Homo sapiens: one gene and its partners. The protein of the gene in region 2 interacts with the protein of the main gene of each other region in a pairwise test. Each region holds a gene or a part of one and is shown on either strand. Other genes may lie near its edges.

Region 1 (8,345 bases), on a different chromosome or scaffold from region 2:
ACATTATAAATGTATTTAAAATCATTGAACACTTAAAAATGGTTAAGAGGGTAAATTTTTTTGTTATGTGTATGTTACCACAATTTTAAATAACTGGGGGACAATCCATTAAAGGAAGATCTGGGGGAAAAAAGTCACAGTGTCTAGATTTCAGAGGACTGGAAGGCCTCCATATTTTTCAGACTTCATGCATATTATTTCCCATATTTTGGTGATAAATACTGGCTAGAAAATTTCAAGATTAGATGGCATCAAGGTGTACAGAGTAATTGCTAACCAAAAGTAGATCCATGTACTTTAACCACCAGCAGAGCAGGATGTGGAGTTGGCACCCGTGTATGAAAGTTGAAGAACCTAAAAGGATACACCTCTACACTGAAGGCCACCCTATTTCCACAGGCATGGCTAAGGATGTATCTATGCAAAGCTACTATTTTTCTCTACTAAACAATTTTAGATCTATACCATCATAGGAAAGAACAGTCATAATAATTTTAATTTTTAAAAACTGTAGGGTGGCTGCTCTAAAATGCCTCTTCAATGTTTAATTGAAAAAAGAATGTATACATATGCAATATTTTAGAGAAGGGTTAAGAAAAAAATGTATTTTTCTACAAGCTTAAAAATTTCAAAATACACAAACCACATGAACTATAAACAAAATTACTGACTAAAAACATGATTAAGTCTATGTAATACTTTCAATTGTCACTTAAATACAGTAATAAGAGTATTTTTTAAAAAGTACCTCACCTGATCTGCATGAATTAGCATCATAAATGCATTCCTTTTGCAACTTGCATCCTTCTCATTCACCAGAAAATCATGTATCAGTTCAGGAGCATCAGGTATAAGATGTTCAAAATTTCTTTAAATAAAACAGGTAACATCCATATTTAATAAAAGCCTACTTTACTATTTTAGTAACTCTCTGGACAATACCAAAATTAAATTTAATCAAACTTTACAACATACTTTTGCTTTTTTTTTTTTTTGGAGACAGAGTCTCACTCTGTTGCCTGGGCTGGAGTGCAGTGGTGCGATCTCAGCTCACTGCTGCCTCCACTTCCAGGGTTCAAGCAATTCTCCTGCCTCAGCCTCCCGAGTAGCTGCGATTATAGGTGCCCACCACTATGCCCAGCTAATTTTTTGTATTTTTAGTAGGGATGGGGTTTCACCATGTTGGCCAGGCTGGTCTTGAACTCCTGACCTCATGATTTGCCCACCTTGGCCTCCAAAGTGCTGGGATTACAGGTGTGAGCCACCGTGCCCAGACAAGGCTAGAGTGCAGTGGAGTGATCTCGGCTTACTGCAACCTCCGCCTTCTAGGTCGAGTGATTCTCCTGCCTCAGCCTCCTGAGTATCTGGGACTACAGGCACGTGCCACCATGCCAGGCTAATTTTTGTTATTTTTTTAGTAGAGACAGCATTTTGCCACGTTGGCCAGGCTTGTCTCATATTCCTGACCTCGAGTGATCCACCCACCTCGGCTTCCCAAAGTGCTGGGATTACAGACATGAACCACCACGCCCGGCCTGCTTTTTGAAACTTCAAATCAATTAGAACTGGGAGAAGGAGCCGGGCGCAGTGGCTCACACCTGTAATCCCAGCACTTTGAGAGGCCCAGGTGGGCGGATCACCTGAGGGTGGGAGTTTGAGATGAGCCTGACCAACATGGAGAAACTCCATCTCTACTAAAAATACAAAATTAGCCAGGCGTGGTAGCGCATGCCTGTAATCCTAGCTACTTGGGAGGCTGAGGCAGGAGAATTGCTTGAACCTGGGAGGTGGAGGCTGCAGTAAGCTGAGATCGTGCCATTGCACTCGAGCCTGGGCGACAAGAGTGAAACTCTGTCTCAAAAAAAAAAAAAAAAAGGAACTGGTAGAAGGAAACACAAAGTTATACCTTCATCTATTAAATTATCAAATTATACGTTTTCTAGTTCAATACAGAAAAAGCTGATTTATTCAACACACCATCTGTTAACCAATGTCTCTAATAACTGTTGTGCATACATTTTAAGCATATCAATATATTAAGAATTACATTAAGAGGAAAAACATAGTCCCTTGAATTTTATTAGTTGTGTACTATTTGCTTACTGACTTGCCTCTTCTTTTGGAAATTTAGAAATATTAGTACAGAGAAGAGTGAACACTAGCTTAATAAAATCCATCACCTTGCTTCAACAATTATAATTCATAGCTAGTTTTGTTTCATCTATATCCTTGCCAAATTTACCTCTTGCCATATTATTTTGAAGCAAATCACAGGCAATGTATCCTTTCTTCTGTAAATATATTGGTAGGTTTCTCTAAAATCAAGGACTCTTTACTTGCAAAACTAATTATTCATCATCACACCTCACAAAATTAATAATTTCCTAATATCAAGACATAGTGTTCACATTTCCAATTGTCCTATAAATGGCCTAATTTTTCTATGTGCACTATAGTTTAAATTCTGAAATTTGTGTAGTCTGTATGGTAACATTAAAGGAACTCACCCTACATTATTATTATTATTATTATTTTTATTATTATTTTTTGAGATGGAGTTTTGGTTTTGTTGCCCAGGCTAGAGTGCAATAGCGCGATCTCGGTTCATCGCAACCTCTGCCTCCCAGGTTCGAGCAATTCTTCTGCTTCAGCCTCCTGAGTAGCTAGGACTACAGGCATGTGCCACCACGCCCAGCTAATTTTGTATTTTTAGTAGAGACGGGGTTTCTCCATGTTGGTCAGGCTGGTCTCGAACTCCCGACCTCAGGTTATCGGCCCGCCTCGGCCTCCCAAAGTGCTGGGATTACAGGCATGAGCCACCACGCCTGGCTCATCTACATTATTAACCAGAATACCACTTTCCTTAATGGATAAAATCTAACAGTAAGATAACTATGAAATTATATCTTAACCAACAAATCTACTAAAGTACAAAGATGCTTATAAAAATTACATTGTAGTCCTTAATAAATTGATACCTGTGACTGTAAAAACTGAGCATTCTAGCTTCATCTAACTGGTTCCTTAAATTGGTTTAAAAATCCAAAATCTCAGCCGGGCGTGGCAGCCTGCACCTACAATCCCAGCACTTTGGGAGGCCAAGGCGAGTGGAACACTTGAGGTCAGGAGTTCGAGACCAGCCTGGCCAACATGGTGAAACCCCATATCTACTAAAAATACAAAAATTGGCTGGGCGTGGTGGTGGGTGCCTGTAATCCCAGCTACTTGGGAGGCTGAGGCAGGAGAATCACTTGAATCCGGGAGGTGGAGGTTGTTGTGAGCCGAGATCGCGCCACTGTGCTCCAGCCTGGGCAACGAGAGTGGAACTCCATCTCAAAACAAAACAAAAACAAATAAAAATTCAAAATCTTCAGCTTTCTAAGAATTGGACTCAGTTATAACTGTAGCCCTTCTCATTTAAAAAGTTCCTTCCTCAAAGCTTCTGACAGTAAAAAGACCGACATTCCACAAAACGAATTCTAAAACAAGGACCAAAGTTAAAAGCCTATAGAGGCTAAGCAAGTGAACATATAAAGTGGCTTGGAGTAATACGGTTGAGAATGACAAGCACTGTCATAAACTGTAAAGTATATAACTTATTTAAAGGGGGTTACTGTTATACAAGTTCAGCAGAATGTTGTCTTGTGGAAGCTAGGAACAGCGCTGCCAGATCTTTTGACTTTTCAATGTTCATAATAAAAAATACAGTGCTGGCCATACAAAATATATCTTCAAGCTATATTCAGTCTGCAAGCAACCACTTTGGAACCACTAGTCTAAAAGACTAAACAGTACTCACAGAATGAAGCCAAAGCAGTATCTTTATTTACCTATAGATGGTATAGATGGCCAAAACAGCATTTCTTCTAACATAGCTGTGTCGATGCTCCAAACATGCACGAATAGCTGGCATTAAAGGTTCTAGCAATTCTGCTTCTTTCAATTTGCAAAGAAAACGAAGAGTAGATCCTCGAATAAATTCATTAGGATGTTGAAGATCCTGATATAAAAATTAAAATATGAAATGCTGAGTTTCAGCTTTTTACAAAAAGAAAATTTTAATGCAAAACTTTCCAATGGAAAAAAAATACGTTTGAGAAAAAACCTAGATTACCGACAATTTCCATCATATTCTTGTTGACTGAAGCAATTTTTACCTATCTCATCAATGTCTTATATGTGTGTCACTGTTTTTTAATTAATATATACACATAAAATGCATAGAAAATGTCTGAAAAGTGACAATAAAACTTTTAAAAATAACTCTTTTACAATTCCAAATCTCTACAACTTACATCTTATCAAAGACTCAATTTTAACAATTAAAACACAGCCCATTCTACCAATTTTACATTTAAATTCAAAGCAATATTCAGAAATAATTATGATTTGGTTTACCTTTCTGTATGCATCACATACAAGGATCATCTCATGTAAAAGTCTCCCATCTGGAGTTGTTTTAGGAACAATTTCCCAAAATACCAGAAGTAATTTCTTGATAGTGTGATCCTGAAGAGGTAGCACAAAACGAATGATGGTCATCAGAAGTCCAGGAAGTTTTTCACCATTCAGAATCATAATGATTACTTTCTTCAAAGCTTCAGTCTTTGACTTTACATCTCCTTTTTCTGAATCAAAAATTTTTTTAAAAAAAAGCACAATTATTTCAAAAGAAAATTCATCACATAAATTTAAAAGCAATTAACAAAATAAAATGTACCTTCTTACTTCAGTATCAGCAATGGTAATAAAAGTACAAACCCAAGTGACAAGGTTCTCCACCTGGTTCTCCACCAAATAATCTGTCTTTGCTCAAGTCATTTATCTCTGGAAATCAGACTCTTTATATATAATATGAAGGCGCTGGATTAGATTTCTGGTTCCTAACCAATTGAGTTAATGCAGGCTCCATGAATCTACAGTCATACCAAGTAAACGTGTTTCAAAACACATATAGCTATTTTTCAAAATGTAAATACATACTATTAATTGATTTTGAATTCAAAACAGCTTTTAGCTATTTGTGTGCATTTTAACAAAGTTAAAACTACTATTATGGGAGGATAAATATGTAACTTTTTTAACATTAGAAAGAGAAACGTCATACTCAAAAAGGCTGAAAACTAAAGTAGTGGATTATTTCTAAAATCTCATCATAGTTCTGCAGGCAGGCTGTAAAACTTTAGAATCTTTCTTAAGATATCATCTGGAAAACTGGGAGGTAATTCAAATGTTCTAGATTAGTAGTCATTATTTAGAATTAAGGATGACACATTAAAGATAAAATGCTAGTTTACTGTTATTTAGCCTAAAAACTCTGCAACATAAAGTATTTTACGCAAAACTATCTAAAATTTCACACCATTATCATTGCATACTGAAGAATTTATAGTACTAAAAATCTTCTGGATCCAAAACTCAAAGGCAGAGAAGTATGTAGTAGCACACTGTACTACAACTGTTTAGATCATCAAAATAAATGAATTATCTTGGGAAGGGGAGAACAAAGAATGATTACAAGTCTTCAATAACCTTAGGGCCATTATGAGGAAAAGAACTACAACTAATGGGTAGTAGTTACCGGGAACCAGATTTGGGCCTAAATATGAGAAATACATTTCTAATGATTAGAGCTAAGCGGCTATGAAACAGAGTTCTGAGCGTCAGATGCGGTGGTTCATCTGGCCCACAGAACTCTTCATTTAATAGCCACTTAAAATTTTTGTATTTTTACTAGAGATGGGGTTTCGCCATGTTGGCCACGCTGGTCTCGAACTCCTGAAGTCAAGTGATCCACCTGCCTCAGCTTCCCAAAGTGCTGGGATTACAGGCATGAGCCACCATGCCCAGTCTCAACTCTTCTTAATGGCAAAAATATACATTAAACTGGAGAGTATGTATTTATTTATTGGTTGGAGGAAGGTAGCTAAGGCAGCTTCAATTAAGACTAGGGCATTGTTCCAACTAAGGGCAGATTTTATTCTTTACCTTCCTAGCTATAACCTTAGGTATCCTGAGGATCTAACAATGAAAATTTTTAAATTATGAGGAAAAACACTAATGAATGTATTCACTATTTTGCATTCAACTATCCTACATGAACATGAAAAAAGGGAAATATATGTGGCTTATGTATATAATGGTATCATTTTAAATATCATAAAACTGGGTTTCTTTTCCCTTCTCTAAAAATAGACCTCAATAGAAACCTAGTATTAAGTAACCTAGAATCAGGAGGTATTCCATTACTGCTGATTAAGAAGTGGGAATAGGCAAGTAAAATATTAAGTTTCTTTTCAAACTGCAAACTATCTTCTAAAAGATCCTTTCTATATTTGAAGCATAATTTTCACTCTGCTCTGTTTAAACAATATTTATCAGTTTAAGTTGTATTTATTTTTAGCAGTTCAATTAAACAAGAATCATTACTTTGGAAAGCATATTAATTATAAATTTTTTTTTTCTTGACAGAATCACTCACAAAAAGGAGACACGGTATACATTTTTAAAATTCAGAAATATGATAAATTTAGTAAAGTTCCAGGACACAAAATCAACATACAAAAATCAGTAGCATTTCTATATGACAACAGTGAACAATCTGAAAAAGAAATTGAAGAAGTAATCTAATCCCATTTACAATACCCACAGATAAAATTAGATACCTAGGAATTAATTTAACCAAATAAATGAAAGATTTCTACAATGAAAACTATAAATACTGATGAAAGAAATTGAAGAGAACATCAACAAATGGAAAGATATTCCATGATCATGGATTAGAAGAATCAGTATTGTTAAAATGTCCATACCACCCAAAGCAATCTAGAGTCAATGCAATTCCCATCAAAATACCAATGACATTCTTCACAGAAAAAAAAAAAAAATCCTAAAATTTATATGGAACCACAAAAGACCCAGAATAGCCAAAGCTATCCTAAGCAAAAAGAACAAAACTGAAGGAATCACATTACTTGACATCAAATTATCCTACATAGCTACAGTAACCAAAACAGCATGGTACTGGCATAAAAACAGACATAAAGACCCATGGAAAATAACAGAACCAAGAAACAAATCCATACACCTACAGTGAACTCATTTTGACAAAGGTGCCAAGAACATACATTGGAGAAAAGACAGTCCCTTCAATAAATGGTGCTTGGAAAACTATGTGCAGAAGAATGAAACTTGTCCCCCATCTCTCAACTTACACAAAAATAAAATCAAAATGGATTAAAGGCTTAAATCTAAGACTTTAAACTATGAAACTACTACAAGAAAATATTGGGAAAAATCTCCAGGACGCTGGTCTGGCCAAAAATTTCTTGAATAATACCCCACAGGCACAGGCAACCAAAGCAAAAACGGACAAATGGGATCACATCAAGTTAAAAAGCTTCCGCACAGCAAAGGAAACAATCGACATACGTGATGAGACAACCCACAGAATGGGAGAAAATATGTGCTAACTACCTATCTCACAAGGGATTAATAACCAGATATGTAAGGAGCTCAAACAACTCTACAGGAAAAAAAAAAACTCATAATCTGATTTAAAAATGGGCAAAAGATTTGAACAGACATTTCACAAAGACATACAATTGGCAAACAGGCATATGAAAAGGTGCTCAACATCACTGATCATCAGAGAAATGCATATCAAAACTACAATGAGATATCATCTCACCCCAGTTAAAATGGCTTTTATCCAAAAGACAAGCAAAAACAAATGCTGGAGAGGATGTGGAGAAAAGGGAACCCTCGTACACTGTTGGTGGGAATGTAAACTAGTATACCCACTATGGAGAACAGTTTGGAGGGTCCTCAAAAAACTAAAAACAGGGGTACCATACGATTCAGCAATCCGACTACTGGGTATATATCCAAAAGAAAGGAAATGAGTACATCAAAGAGATATCTGGACTCCTATGTTTGTTGCAGCACTGTTTACAACAGTCAAAACTTGAAAGCAACCTAAGTGTCCACCAACAGATAAATGTATAAAGAAAATGTGGTACATATACACAATGGAGTACTATTCAGCCATAAAAAAAGAATGAGATCTTGTCATTTGCAAAAATATGGATGGAACTGGAGGTCATTATGTTACATGAAATAAGTCAGGCATAGAAAGACAAACTTCACATGTTCTCACTTATTTGTGGAAGCTAAAAATCAAAACAAACTCACGGAGACAGAGTAAAAGGATGGTTATCAGAGGTGGGAAGGGTAGTGGTAGGGAAGTGGAGATGGTTAATGGGTACAGAAAAAATGAGTTAGACCCGATATTTGATAGCACACAGGGTAACTACAGTCAATAATAATTTAATTGGACATTTAAA
Region 2 (9,692 bases):
TTTTCAAAAAACCAGCTCCTGGATTCATTGATTTTTTGAAGGTTTTTTGTGTCTCTATCTCCTTCAGTTGTCCTCTGATCTTAGTTGTTTCTTGCTTTCTGCTAGGTTTTGAATTTGTTTGCTCTTGCTTTTCTAGTTCTTTTAATTGTGATGTTAGGGTGTTGATTTTAGATCTTTCCTGCTTTCTCTTGTGGGCAGTTAGTGCTATAAATTTCCCTCTACACACTGCTTTAAATATGTCCCAGATATTCTGGTACGTCATGTCTTTGTTCTCGTTGGTTTCAAAGAACATCTTTCTTTCTGCCTTCATTTTGTTATTTACTCAGTAGTCATTCAGGAGCAGGTTGTTCAGTTTCCATGTAGCTGTGCAGTTTTGAGTGAGTTTCTTAACCCTGAGTTTGAATTTGATTGCACCGTGGTTGTGATTTCTGCTCTTTTACATTTGCTGAGGAGTGCTTTACTTCTAACTATGTGGTCAGTTTTGGAATAAATGTGATGCGGTGCTGAGAAGAGTGTATATTCTGTTGATTTGGGGTGGAGAGTTATGTAGACATCTGTTAGGTCCGCTTGGTGCATAGCTGAGTTAAAGTCCTGGATATCCTTGTTAACCTGCTGTCTCGTTGATCTATCTAATATTGACAGTGGGGTGTTAAAATCTCCCATTATTATTTTGTGGGAGTCTATGTCTCCTTGTACTCTCTGAGGACTTGCTTTATGAATCTGGGTGCTCCTGTATTGGGTGCATATATATTTAGGATAGTTAGCTCTTCCTGTTGAATTGATCCCTTTACCATTCTTTGATTGCCTTCTTTGTCTCTTTTTTTTTTTTTTTTTGTCTTTGTTGGTTTAAAGTCTGTTTTATCAGAGACTAGGATTGCAACCCCTGCTTTTTTTTTGTTTTTTTTTTGTTTGTTTTTTTTTTGCTTTCCATTTGCTTGGTAGATCTTCCTCCATCCCTTTATTTTGAGCCTGTGTGTGTCTCTGCACGTGAGATGAGTCTCCTGAATACAGCACACTGATGGGTCTTGATTCTTTATCCAATTTGCCAGTCTGTGTCTTTTAATTGGGGCATTTAGCCCATTTACATTTAAGGTTAATATTGTTATGTGTGAATTCAATCCTGTCATTATGATGTTAGCTGGTTATTTTGCTCGTAGTTGATGCAGTTTCCTCCTAGCATCGATGGTCTTTACAATTTGGCATGTTTTTGCGGTGGCTGGTACCGGTTGTTCCTTTCCATGTTTAGTGCTTCCTTCAGGAGCTCTTGTAAGGCAGGCCTGGTGGTGACAAAATCTCTCAGCATTTGCTTATCTATAAAGGATTTTATTTTGCCTTTACTAATGAAGCTTAGTTTGGCTGGATATGAAATTCTGGGTTGAAAATTCTTTTCTTTAAGAATGTTGAATATTGGCCCCCACTCTCTTCTGGCTTGTAGAGTTTCTGCCGAGAGATCAGCTGTTAGTCCAATGGGCTTCCCTTTGTGGGTAACCTGACCTTTCTCTCTGGCTGCCCTTAACATTTTTTGCTTCATTTCAACCTTGGTGAATCTGACAATTATGTGTCTTGGGGTTGCTCTTCTCAAGGAGTATCTTTGTGGTGTTCTCTGTATTTCCTGAATTTGAATGTTGGCCTGCCTTGCTAGATTGGGGAAATTCACCTGCATAATATCCTGAAGAGTGTTTTCCAGCTTGGTTCCATTCTCCCTGTCACTTTCAGGTACACCAATCAAACGTAGATTTGGTCTTTTCACATAGTCTCATATTTCTTGGAGGCTTTGTTCGTTTCTTTTTACTCTTTTTTCTCTAAACTTCTTGCTTCATTTCATTTGTTATAGCCACAGGAGTTAGAGAAAATGCCACACTTTGAGACAAATTAAGAGTCCTTTATTTAAGCCGGCGGCCAAAGAGATGGCTAATGCTCAAAATTCTCTTGGCCCCGATGAAGGGGCTTAACTTTTATACCTAGGTTTAGGAAGGGGAGGGGGACTTAAATGCAATAACTCTACAGAAGTAAAAACATGCAAGAATCAAAAGAAGCAAATGGTTACAGAGAAATGAACAATTTAAAAGACAAATGGTTACAAAAAGAGCAAGGGTACCAGGTGCAAGGCTCTAAATCCTTCATTATAGTTAGATATAAATGCTATGCCAGACAGGAACTCAAGGCTTTGTGTTGTTATCTCTTTGAGCAAAACCCTGGGAACTTCATACATTGTTTGCTCCAGTATCTTACCAGTTAATTGGGCTCCTTTGAAATGCTGAGGATCTGCTTACACAGGTTAACTCCTTAAGGAAGGGGGTTGGGTAAGGAGCCCTTAATGTCTTGTAAATCAAGAGGTCAAATGGAGTTTGTCCGGCTTTCCCAGCCAGGGAGAGTGTATTCATATGGGAAACATGGCTGGCAATTAAGGAGACAAAAAAAGGAAAATTTAAAGTAGTGAGCTAGAGTAAAAAACAAGGTTAGGCGTTACACATTCATTTGATCTTCAGTCACTGATACCCTTTCTTCCACTCGATGGAATCAGCTTCTGAAGCTTATGCATGCGTCACGTAGTTCTCCTGCCATGGTTTTCAGCTCCATCAGGTCATTTAAGGTCTTCTCTACACTGTTTATTCTAGTTAGCCATTCGTCTAATCTTTTTTCAAGGTTTTTAGCTTCCTTGAGATGGGTTCATACATCCTCCTTTAGCTTGGAGAATTTTGTTATTTCCAACCTTCTGAAGCCTACTTCTGTCAACTTGTCAAAGTTATTCTCTGTCCAGCTTTGTTCCATTGCTGGCGAGGAGCTGTGATCCTTTGGAGAAGAGGCACTCTGGTTTTTAGAATTGTCAGCTTTTCTGCTCTGGTTTCTCCCCATCTTTGTGGTTTTATCTACCTTTGATCTCTGATGATGGTGACCTACAGATGGGGTTTTGGTGTTGATGTCCTTTTTGTTGATGTTGATGCTATTCCTTTCTGTTTGTTAGTTTTCCTTCTAACAGTCAGGTGTCTCAGCTGCAGGTCTGTTAGAGTTTGCTGGAGGTCCACTCCAGACCCTGTTTGCCTGGGTGTCACCAGCAGATGGCTGCAGAACCGCAAATATTGCAGAACTGCAATATTGCTGCCTGATCCTTCCTCTGGAAGCTTCATCTCAAGGGGCACCCAGCTGTATGAGGTGTCAGTCGGCCCCTACTGGGAGGTGTCTCCCAGTTAGGCTACACAGGGGTCAGGGACCCACTTGAGGCAGTCTGTCCGTTCTCAGAGGTCAAACACCATGCTGGGAAAACCACTGCTCTCTTCAGAGCTGTCAGGGATGTTTAAGTCTGCAGAAGTTCCTGCTGCCTTCTGTTCAGCTCTGCCCTTCCCCCAGAGGTGGAGTCTACAGAGGCAGGCAGGCCTCGTTGACCTGCGGTGGGCTCCACCCAGTTTGAGCCTCCTGGCTGCTTTGTTTACCTACTGAAGCCTCAGCAATGGCAGATGCCCCTACCCCTGCCAGGCTGCTGTCTCGCGGGTCGATCTCAGACTGCTGCACTAACAGTGAGCAAGCCTCCGTGGGCATGGGACCTACTGAGCCAGGTGTGGTTTATAATCTTCTGGTGTGCCATTTGCTAAGACTGTTGGAAAAGCGCAGTGTTTGGGTGGCAGTGTCCCTATTTTCCAGGTACTGCCTGTCATGGCTTCCCTTGGCTAGGAAAGGGAAGTCCCCCGACCCCTTGCGCTTCCTGGGTGAGGTGATGCCCCACCTTGCTTCGGCTTGCCCTCTGTGGGCTGCACCCACTGTCCATCCAGTCCCAATGAGATGAACCAGGTACCTCAGCTGGAAATGCAGAAATCACCCATCTTCTTTGTCGATCACACTGGGAGCTGCAGACTGGTGCTGTTCCTATTCAGCCATCTTGGAACTGTATCCCCCAATTTTTTCTAATTTTTAATTTTGAGGAGGATCTTTCTGTTGATGCAACTGACAGTGGAGCTGCTAAGAGTATTTTGTAGGCTGTGCCAACATTTGCATAGATTTCTAATAAAGTATTTCCAAATATGAATTTTAGTTTATATAGAGGTGATTATTCTTGGGGATCAGATTTTCTAAAAAGATTTAACTCTTCATACACATTAGTTTCATACATGTTGGAATTTAATTTTAAATACAAATCTCTATGATGTCATTTTAATGTTTTCTCTAGCATGTTCTGTAACATATAAAGATCATATAAGAAACCAAAAATCACTTAATGATTTGTCTATAATTCACAGTGCTTGTTTATGCTTTCTATAGCAGCATCTTCAGTTACAAAGAAAAATTAAATTTAAAAATTGTATTCCTCATTAATAATTGGTTCATTAGAAATTGCATATGAGAATAGTGGGTTTTTTCCTATCAAATGCAACAATCTTTAATTTTTATTTCCAAACCTGTGGATGTTCGCTTTCCAGTGTTGTAGCAGTTTTTAAAACCAGAGATTCTAAACTCTTTGAAGGCTTCTAATATATCTCTGATATGCTTCATTGTAATGTCCACGTGTATGTTTTTATTTTCTAATAATTTACTGGCATTTATACTTAATGCTAGCAGTTCCTATCCCAGTTCTCAGGCCAGAAAGATGACATTTTTGCCACAGGGATGGGCTTGGGAAACAGACAACCCAGCCTCTCACCACTGCTGCTTCTGCCATTGTCACCACCATTAATTTGGAGCTAGGTTCTGGCCCCAGCTATCCCCTTAGGGCCCTATGTGGTACTCCAAACTGTTTTTGTTTGTTTGGTTGGTTGGTTGGTTGGTTTTTTGTTTGTTTGTTTGCTCTATTGCCCAGGCTGGAGTGCAGTGGCACGATCTCAGCTCACTGCAGCCTCCACTTTCCAGGTTCAAGCGATTCTCCTGCCTCAGCCTCCTGAGTAGCTGGGGCTACAGGCACATGCCACCATGCCCGCCTAATTTTTGTATTTTTAGTAGAGACAGAGTTTCACCATGTTGTCCAGGCTGGTCTTGAACTCCTGACCTCAAGTGATCCACCCACCTCGGCCTCCCAAAGTGCTGGGATTACAGGCATGAACCACCTCACCCGGCCCCCAGAATGTTTTTTTACCTCTAAGCTGCTCTGCACTTACCCTTTCTGAAAAGAATGCTGGACACAAGGCAGTCTTTCTTTGGAGGGATGTCTTTATAGATTTAGAATCTTTTCCCAAACTTCTAGAAAAAGTGGAAGGGGGTTAACAGGAAGGAACTAACATTTATTCAGTGCCTATTATGTATTCATTTATATCAATGAATTCATTTAATCCTAACTGGAGTTTTGCTAGCCTCTTACACATGAAAAGACTGAACTGAGACACTGAATAACTTCCCCAATATTACACAGCTTGCAAATGGTAGAACAGAGATTTGAACCAAGCGTGTCTGTCTGTGAAGATTTCGACAGACAGCTTTAGTGTCCTGGATGAGAGTGCTGGAGACAAACCACCTGGGTTCAATTCTAGACTCTGCTGTGTAATTGCTTTCTGTTAGATGAGTTACTTCCCTGAGCTTTAATTTCCGCATGTTTATAATGGAGATGAGAGTAGTATAGTACCTACTTCCTAGGGTTCATTAGAGGATTATAGGAAGGTTAAATATTTGTAGTGTTAGGAACAGTGCCTGACAGTAAGCCTGCAGTAAATGTCACTGTTAATATCATTACTGTTATCATGATTACTCTTCCCACTCTACAATCTCTCTTCATAAGTTATAAAGGAATGTTAGGGGTCAGCAAAAGAGAAGAGCTTATGTACAGGCAGCAGGGCCTAGGTTCTTCAAGTCCTTCTGGTGTTTACCTTCACAAAAATTCCCTTAAGCATCATCTTATGCATGATGTGATCTGTAATCTAATTCTTGCCCTGGACAGCCCATTTCTGCTGGGCTTCTTGAATTCTCATTTTCTAATAATCTGATCCTTTCCTGTCTGGGTTATATGTCTTACAGGTATGAGACATCTTTGTTGGATTTGGTTCAGTCTCTGAGCCCAAACTCTGCGCCCAAACCTCAGCGCTATCCCTCCAGAGAAGCTGGGGCCTGGAATCATGGTACTTTCCGACTCAGTCCTCTAAAATCAACCCGGAAGAAGATGGGGATGCACAGAACCCCTGAAGAGTTGGAGGAGAATCAGATTCTGGAAGATATATTTTTCATTTGACATATTGCAAAATTTTCTTAGGAAATTTGTGGGTTTCCTCACATACTGATCTAGGATTTTAAATTATTTCATTGCAAAGTAATTGTGTCTCTCCTTTCACGGGGACTTGTCTCACTAGCATCCTGTTACGTATTGAATATAGAAATCATTCTAACAACCCAGGTTATTTTCAATCAGACCAGGCATTCGATAACACACTAAGGGGGTAGGAATGGAAGATGGTATCTTTTATATGCTAAACAGATTAGAAAATTAACATAGGATACTTTCTGCGTGGTGGAAACCATTGCATATTCAGCCTCATTTCAAGAGTGTTTCCTTCTCAAACTTCTGCTAGAAAATGCTGACTCACTTTTATATACAAGAAAAACCTTTCCACTGAAAAATCCCTCTGATTTAAAAGTAACCCCTTTGAAACATAAGCAGTTTCAGAAAGGCAGACTCTCTCATCTTTCTCATCCTGTTCTCTCACTACTACATTTCTGTAAGTGGTCCTTTAATTCTGAAGTTGGAGTTGGTGCCCCTGCCATCACAAACAACACGAGAGCCAATTGTGAGTCAGTCTCAGTAGCCATCAGCCTGGCAGCTGCCCATCCCATAACCAAAGAGCTCAATGGGCTGGAGGGTGAGACCCAGCCAATCCTTGGGAGCAAGCAGCACTAAATCACATCAGGGAGTGATTAGTCCTGGGGAAATTCAGTGGAGGCACAAGCCTGAAGCACTCTTCTACCAATGTTTGGGTGACCACCCCTCCAATATCCCAGAATGAATAAGAACAATCCCTAGGTATTTTTATTTACCCAAGTGTTCAGCTTATTCACCCCACCCCCCCACCCCCCATCACACGTGCTCCTGTGAACTTTCCATGGTTATGTCTACGGAAAATGCCACTAGAGAGAGAGTGATGCAAGCTGCTGCAAAGCTGATGGGCTTCCTCTGGCCCTCCCTTTTCCTCCACGAGGATTAAAGGATACAAGCTGACCAGGCCTCACAGGTGCTCTGCTCGTGGCCCCAAAGAACCATCTCTACTTGCCAGAGTATGTTCCACCACCCAAGCAGGGTCTCCCTACTTTTTCTCACTGGCCTCGTTTTGACCCAGAGAAAGCCTATGGAAGTTATGCAGTGCAGACCTCATCCTGTCTGCTGTCTTTTCTCCCACAGAGCTCTTGAGATGGGTCCTTCAGCTTGCAGTGGTCCCTAGTAGCCTCTCAAGCTAATGGGGATGATGATCCTGGTTTAGCCAGAGTTCAAAACTCTCCAGTCATTGAAAGCAAGGGGAGGGTGTGTTCCCAGATGTGTATTACTTGGGAATTTTATTTGATCTGGAGGGTGTGGCTTTTTTTCTCTCCTTTTTACCAACCCCAACTAAACTGGGAGTAAGACTTAGTCAGTGTTGGTAGACAAAGTCATACCACCCAGGGCAGCCTGCATGCAGCGAGTCTGCGTGGCTTCCCTGAATTACTCTTTTAATTAAAACTAGATTATTTCAATCTAGAAAAGCCTTGTTGAGCAGCCTCCTTATCCAGATAGATCCAAAGCTCATGTCTCTTCAGGCTGAGACTGGCGCTGTCACCTCCACCCAGCCTTCTTTCACTTGGGGTTTTTTATTCTTTGGAGTAGAAAAGAATGGAGCCCACTAATATTATATTTTTCTTCTGAAATAAATATAAAGTCAAGACTAACTAGTTATAATCATTCCCTTAAAAAGTTGGAAAATCATTACAGATTAAAATTTCTTTATAAAGTTCACCTCTGAGAGTAACCAAATCGGTTTCATCCCATATCAAAAAGCCTTTGGAGTGTGGAGCTTTCTGTGGTATGGCAGAAATGGGTGGATGGCAAACTAAGAGCCCTCAGCCATTTTTTCAGTTAAAGTTAGGTTGCCAGAACTTTCTTTTCCTTGCCCCCTGTGTCATGACTAGCTTAAGTGTACTTGACTCCCATAGACTACTCCCATGCCCACAGTCACCCATTCCAGACTCCAGTGTCCTTAAAACTCTGGAGTGAGAGGATGCCAGAGGATCAAGAAAAGGATCACAGTTTCTTGAAGAAGCTTGTTTGCCTTTAGAAGAATCGTAAACAGAGTCTAAACTAAAGGCTTTTTGGGGGTCACAGCCACAGAGTGGAGTTTTATTGCTTCTTTGCCTCTCCATGAATGGCCAATTTGGAAAAGCAGAGATGGGCTTTCAGCAGAATATCAACCAATACATTTTTCACATGCAAAACTCATCACCAGTTGCCTTTTTCTAACTTAATGGACATTTTGTTGGTGTTGGTGCAAGGGCAATAGGATGTAAATTTGTATATAATCTAATGTCTTCATTATTAATTGAATAGTACATGTTAACATTTTAATCTATTTAAATTTACTTTGAAATATATACATACATATGAATGAAAGGTTGTTACAGAGCCTCAAAGCTGTTGCAGACTATCCCAAGAGAAAGGATCTGGCACAAAGGAATCTGCCTTTCCTCCGTCTCAAGTCTCCCACCCTTGACTGGTTGGGATTTGCTCGTCCAGCCTCTAGACACTTCCCAAAGCAAGACTGGACACATGCCGAGGGCGTTGCGGATAGTGCCTCACCATTGCCCACCCTGCTGCCCAACTCCTGTGAGAGAAAAACCAATCAATGTTTACAAAATGGAAAAGGACACAGCATGTCCTTTGAACTCCCTAAGTAAGGCCCACAGTTCTTGATGCAGAGAACCAAAGTGAATCATAGAAAAGCTTTTGCTAACAGTCCGCTTTCCAGGAGGCAAACTTGTGTTTATCCAAACCTGATCCCCATGATGGGGACTTTTCTAGAGCACCCCAAATGTCATGGGGAGAGAGGGACTCTTTCTGCTCCCTCAGAGCTACTCTTCACTTGTCCCTGCTTCCGGCACCAAGTTCATAATAGAGATCTTCTGGCCAGAGAATCAGGGGAGAGGAGAGGCCTGATGGGGCAGAGCTGGACGAAGTCTGCTAAGAGAGATGGAGGCTGTGGCGGACTCCTTCCAACTCACGATTTATCCTCAGCTCAGAGTGTATTTTGAATATGAGCAAATGTTTATGTACGTATGAGATTTCAAGTTAATAAATCATCTCTATGGCTATTTTCCCCATGTGGGTTTGATATTGAATTGTCCCTTGAACATCCCTCATCAGATCAGTGAGGCATAGCTTGAAAGCAAGTGCAGACCTGCAGGTTATCAAAATGTTATTTTCCTCAGTACTTGTTAAAACAGCAGGAGCCTGTCGTTGACTGAGAGAAAGGAAATGGTTTGTCACATCCCAGTAGGTTTTTCTGCTGTGGCTCCTGCTCACTCACATCACGTGAACACCAAGCCGCCTCTAGATTTTGTGCTTGTTGGAACAGAACATTCAGTCTCTCTGCACCTGTAAGTCCCTTCTCTGTGCCTACCCCCATAGCTGCTCAGCAAGGAAGAAGTATCACAGCACTTTAAGACAAGAAAAATGGCCCTGCCTAGTTGCCTTTAGTTGCTGGAAGAATGTATGTGAGGGCTTCAGTGTCTAAAGTGCTCAATTCTGAGATCACACCTGT
Region 3 (3,860 bases), on a different chromosome or scaffold from region 2:
TCAGGCTGACTGAAGGGGGTCACAGTGTTTGGGCTTGGCTGGGGGTGGAGGGCACCTCCAAAAAGAAACACCACCGCAGCTGACCTCCGACATGGGGGCTGGGAGGGGCTGACACACAGCTGTGCTCTCATCTCCACTCTCCCCAGTGCCCTGGGTGACCTTGGGCAAGTCCTTGGCCTTGAGGCCTCAGTGTCTGTCTAGGGGTCAGCTGGGCTTCACAGCAGGAGGATGAGTATTGCCCCGTGTACAGATTGAGGAAACCAGAGCTCAGAGAGGTGCCGTGTCTTGCTCCAGGTGACACAGAGAGTCAGCACCAGATCCGAGAGGTCTCCTCCCCTCTCCCCACTCCTGCTGTCCTTGCTGGGACTTTGGGAGCAGGAGGTGGAACGAGAATGGAAATGGGCTTTGAAGTCCTCACTCAACCAGATAGGACCAGAGCAGCTTCTGGCGCCAGAAAAGCAGACCAAAGAGGCTCTGAGAGTCCGAATCGGAGGCCCCGCTCCAAACACAAACAAGCTGCTGCCTTGCTCTGAACCTGTTTCCCCATCGGGAAAATGGGGCTGTTTATACCAGTGATTTTCAACCTTCCAAGTTTTTCCTTGGGGGTGACATACACTTTTATAATCAAATGGAATTATCCAGGGAAGGCTGCTGGGTCTGTACTCCAATCTCATTATTCATTAATGGATGGCCAGTCACTGACCACCTGGCAGATACTGGTTTTCCGTCATCTCACACTCAGCTCTGTCCAAGGTGGGACAAGACCCAAGTGAAGCTGGTCTGGGGGACATGGGGGACCAGGGGGTTGGGGATTTGGAACTGGGCCATCAGTAATGTGGTCCCCAGGTTTCCTCCCACTGTGGGTTCTAGGAGTCCCTCATTCCAGGAACCTCTCCAGCCCTGCTCACACTCCAGAGCCGTGGGTCCCTGGTTCAAGCAAAGCTCCCCTCAGATCCCCTTGCTGGCCTGGGTCTGACATCCCCGACTCCGGGACCTGATGGGAGCCCCTCTGCCTGCAGCTCCCACCATGTGAGGGTGGAGCACTTCATGAACCACAGCATCACCACACTGGCCAAGGACACGCCGCTGGAGGAGGTGGTCAAGGTTGTGACCTCCACAGACGTGACCGAGTATCCCCTGGTGGAGAGCACAGGTGCCCAGCTGGAAGGGAGGAGGAAGTCGGGGGTAGGGGATGCCCTCTGCCTCCTTCTTGAACCTGTCAGGCAGACAGGATCTGCATCCAGGCTCTGTGACTTAGCAACCAACCGTGTGACCTTGAGCAAGTCACTTCACCTGAGCCTCAGTTTCCTCATCAGCAAAATGGAAATCATGGCTACCCTCCCTTGGGGTGGTTGACATGTCTAAAGAGAGTCGGCTGGGTGCTTGTAAGGCAGTCCCTGGGCAGCTGCTGGGGTAGGAGCATGGGGACACCACCAAGGTCTTCCGGAAGCTTGGCCCTCAGGCCTGTTTCTTCATAATGCACCTCCCTCCCTCTCCCTCTCTACTTGCCAGAGTCCCAGATCCTGGTAGGCATCGTGCAGAGGGCCCAGCTGGTGCAGGCCCTCCAGGCTGAGCCTCCTTCCAGGGCTCCAGGACACCAGGTGGTTACTCCTGAGGGGCGTGGGGATGGGGCGGGGGTGGGTCAGCAGGGATGGGAGGGGAGGGACCCGCTGATCTCCTGAGGGAGAGGTGGTCTGAGAGAGGCATCCTGGGGAGGCCGGCCCTGCACCCATAACTCTTCCCCACTCCCAGCAGTGTCTCCAGGACATCTTGGCCAGGGGCTGCCCCACGGAACCAGTGACCCTGACGCTATTCTCAGAGACCACCTTGCACCAGGTAACAAGTATTGGGGAGTGTGACACACGCAGCCCCCGGGGCAGGGCAAGAGCTGATGAGGAGCTCAGGCTCCAGCCTCCCGTCCCAACCCCGCCCCGCCCATCTTATCCTGCTTCCTGCTCCTCCTGGGCCTGGACAGGGCAGCTCCTGCCGTCGCCCCTCACTGCCAGGGTTGCGGGGATGATGCAGAGAGATGAGGGAATTGGGGGGCTTGGCAAATGGAAGTCTCTGGGTGGAGAAAGACAGTGGAGTTGCACCAAGGCACACGTGCGTTTCAATTTCAGGTCCACCCCATTTTGCCTGTGTGATCTTGGACAAATTATGTAGCCAGTTGAGACAGAGCCTGACACAAGGATGGGGCAAGGGCGGAGGCTGACAGGGGACCTGGAGATGGCCCCGCCCCCTCTGTGCTGCTGGAGGGTGCTGGATGTTGGGTCCTGTCCACTTGCAGCCCCGCCCAGACCCTTGAGTGGCCTCTGGCATCCCCCAGTGGCCCACACTGGACATTGCAGGCCTGGGTCTGTTGCCTCCCACACATATCAGGCCCCGCCCCTCTTCCTGGCTCAGAGGCGTGGCAGAGTGGGCCAGAGGGTGGGCTGGGCGCCATCTACCCTCCAGTGTTTCCTAACAATCCCCCATCCAGGCACAAAACCTCTTTAAGCTGTTGAACCTTCAGTCCCTCTTCGTGACATCGCGGGGCAGAGCTGTGGGCTGCGTGTCCTGGGTGGAGGTACCAGGGTCCCGGGGGCAGAGCAAAGCAGGGGACCCATGCCTGAGAAGGCTGGGGAGATGGGGAGGTGGGGGGACACCAGCATGCTCCCATCCAAACCTGGGGGGATTCAGAGGATACTTATGAGTCCCTCTTTCTGGCCCAGATTGGCCACTGGGCCTGGCTCCCCTACCTTGTTTTCTGGCCAGTGGCCAGCCTGCCCTTCTCGGCCTCAGTGATCCCATCTGTGCAATGGGGTGGCACAGGCTCTACTATTCAGCCTGGAAATGAACCTTAGGGGACTAAAAATGCTGGAGCCCCCCTCACAACCTCCTCTACATCCCCCCCCACCTCCACCCCCTTTCTCTGTTCTAGATGAAGAAAGCAATTTCCAACCTGACAAATCCGCCAGCTCCAAAGTGAGCCGGCCCAGCAAGATGAAACAGGGCACCCCAGCTGACCTGGTACTGAGGTTGGGCTGAGACCCTGCTTCTCTTCCCCCATCACCACCTGCCCCTCCCTCCAGCCCAGCTCCATTCTTTGGCATAACAGGCAACTCTAACCTAGCCCAGAAGAGGATGGCTCATCCTGGGTGGGACGATGGCTCCTGCCTTGAAAGACAAAAATCCCACCTTGGGCAGAGCTGAGTGTGAGAAGATGGAAAACCAGTATCTGCCAGGTGCTCAGTGACTGGCCATCACATTAATGAATGACGAGATTGGAGTACACTGTCACCAAGGGCAGGCAAAGATGCCCTCTGGGGTTGTCTGGTTCCCAGTGAGAGGCTCCTGAGAAAAATAAAGCTGGTTCCCAGAGCTGCTGTCCATCCCTCATCTCAGCTGCAAGGTTGCTGGTCTGGGACTGGAGCTCCTTACCTGCGCTGGCCCAGAGTGAGTTTCCCGTGGTCACGTGGGCACTGCAGGCTCGGGCCCCTGGGCTCCTCCTCATGCTCCATTTCTTGGCAGGGAGATGATAGGGAGAGAGGTTCTCCCACCAGGTCTATGATGCTTGTCCTCATGAATAAGTGGGATACTGTGTCACTCAAACCCTAGTCTCCTGCTTGGCTGGGCCACAGCTCATAAAGCCAGGACCGAAGTGTGGCTCCTTCTGGAGTCCACAGAGCCCTGGGCATCCTCCATGAGCCTTCTATGCCTGGGTGGCCCAGGTTGACCGGCTGTGTATGTGTTGGGGTTAAGGATCCCCCCTGACTCCCTCCGGACTCTGTCCAGGGGCCCAAGGTCACATCTTCCCCAGCAGAGACCAGGCCAAGGTCATCCAGGGTGAATCCACCACTTTAATGTCCTCAAAGAAACTT

The links.
Region 1: the proteins of KIAA1328 (region 2) and COPB1 interact in binary tests that used the Homo sapiens proteins (3 or more experiments, as listed by UniProt).
Region 3: the proteins of KIAA1328 (region 2) and CLCNKA interact in binary tests that used the Homo sapiens proteins (3 or more experiments, as listed by UniProt).

The regions. Positions count from the first base shown.
Region 1 is NC_000011.10:14,489,812-14,498,156, forward strand, and holds part of COPB1 (coatomer subunit beta), read right to left. Parts: intron 4,629-8,345; coding exon 4,399-4,628; intron 4,001-4,398; coding exon 3,831-4,000; intron 869-3,830; coding exon 754-868; intron 1-753. UniProt on the Homo sapiens protein: The coatomer is a cytosolic protein complex that binds to dilysine motifs and reversibly associates with Golgi non-clathrin-coated vesicles, which further mediate biosynthetic protein transport from the ER, via the Golgi up to the trans Golgi network.
Region 2 is NC_000018.10:37,216,083-37,225,774, forward strand, and holds the end of KIAA1328 (protein hinderin), read left to right. Parts: intron 1-5,934; coding exon 5,935-6,145; 3' UTR 6,146-9,252; downstream 9,253-9,692. UniProt on the Homo sapiens protein: Competes with SMC1 for binding to SMC3. May affect the availability of SMC3 to engage in the formation of multimeric protein complexes.
Region 3 is NC_000001.11:16,030,691-16,034,550, forward strand, and holds the end of CLCNKA (chloride channel protein ClC-Ka), read left to right. Parts: intron 1-1,019; coding exon 1,020-1,153; intron 1,154-1,512; coding exon 1,513-1,601; intron 1,602-1,752; coding exon 1,753-1,836; intron 1,837-2,479; coding exon 2,480-2,566; intron 2,567-2,920; coding exon 2,921-2,968; 3' UTR 2,969-3,360; downstream 3,361-3,860. UniProt on the Homo sapiens protein: Anion-selective channel permeable to small monovalent anions with ion selectivity for chloride > bromide > nitrate > iodide. Forms a homodimeric channel where each subunit has its own ion conduction pathway.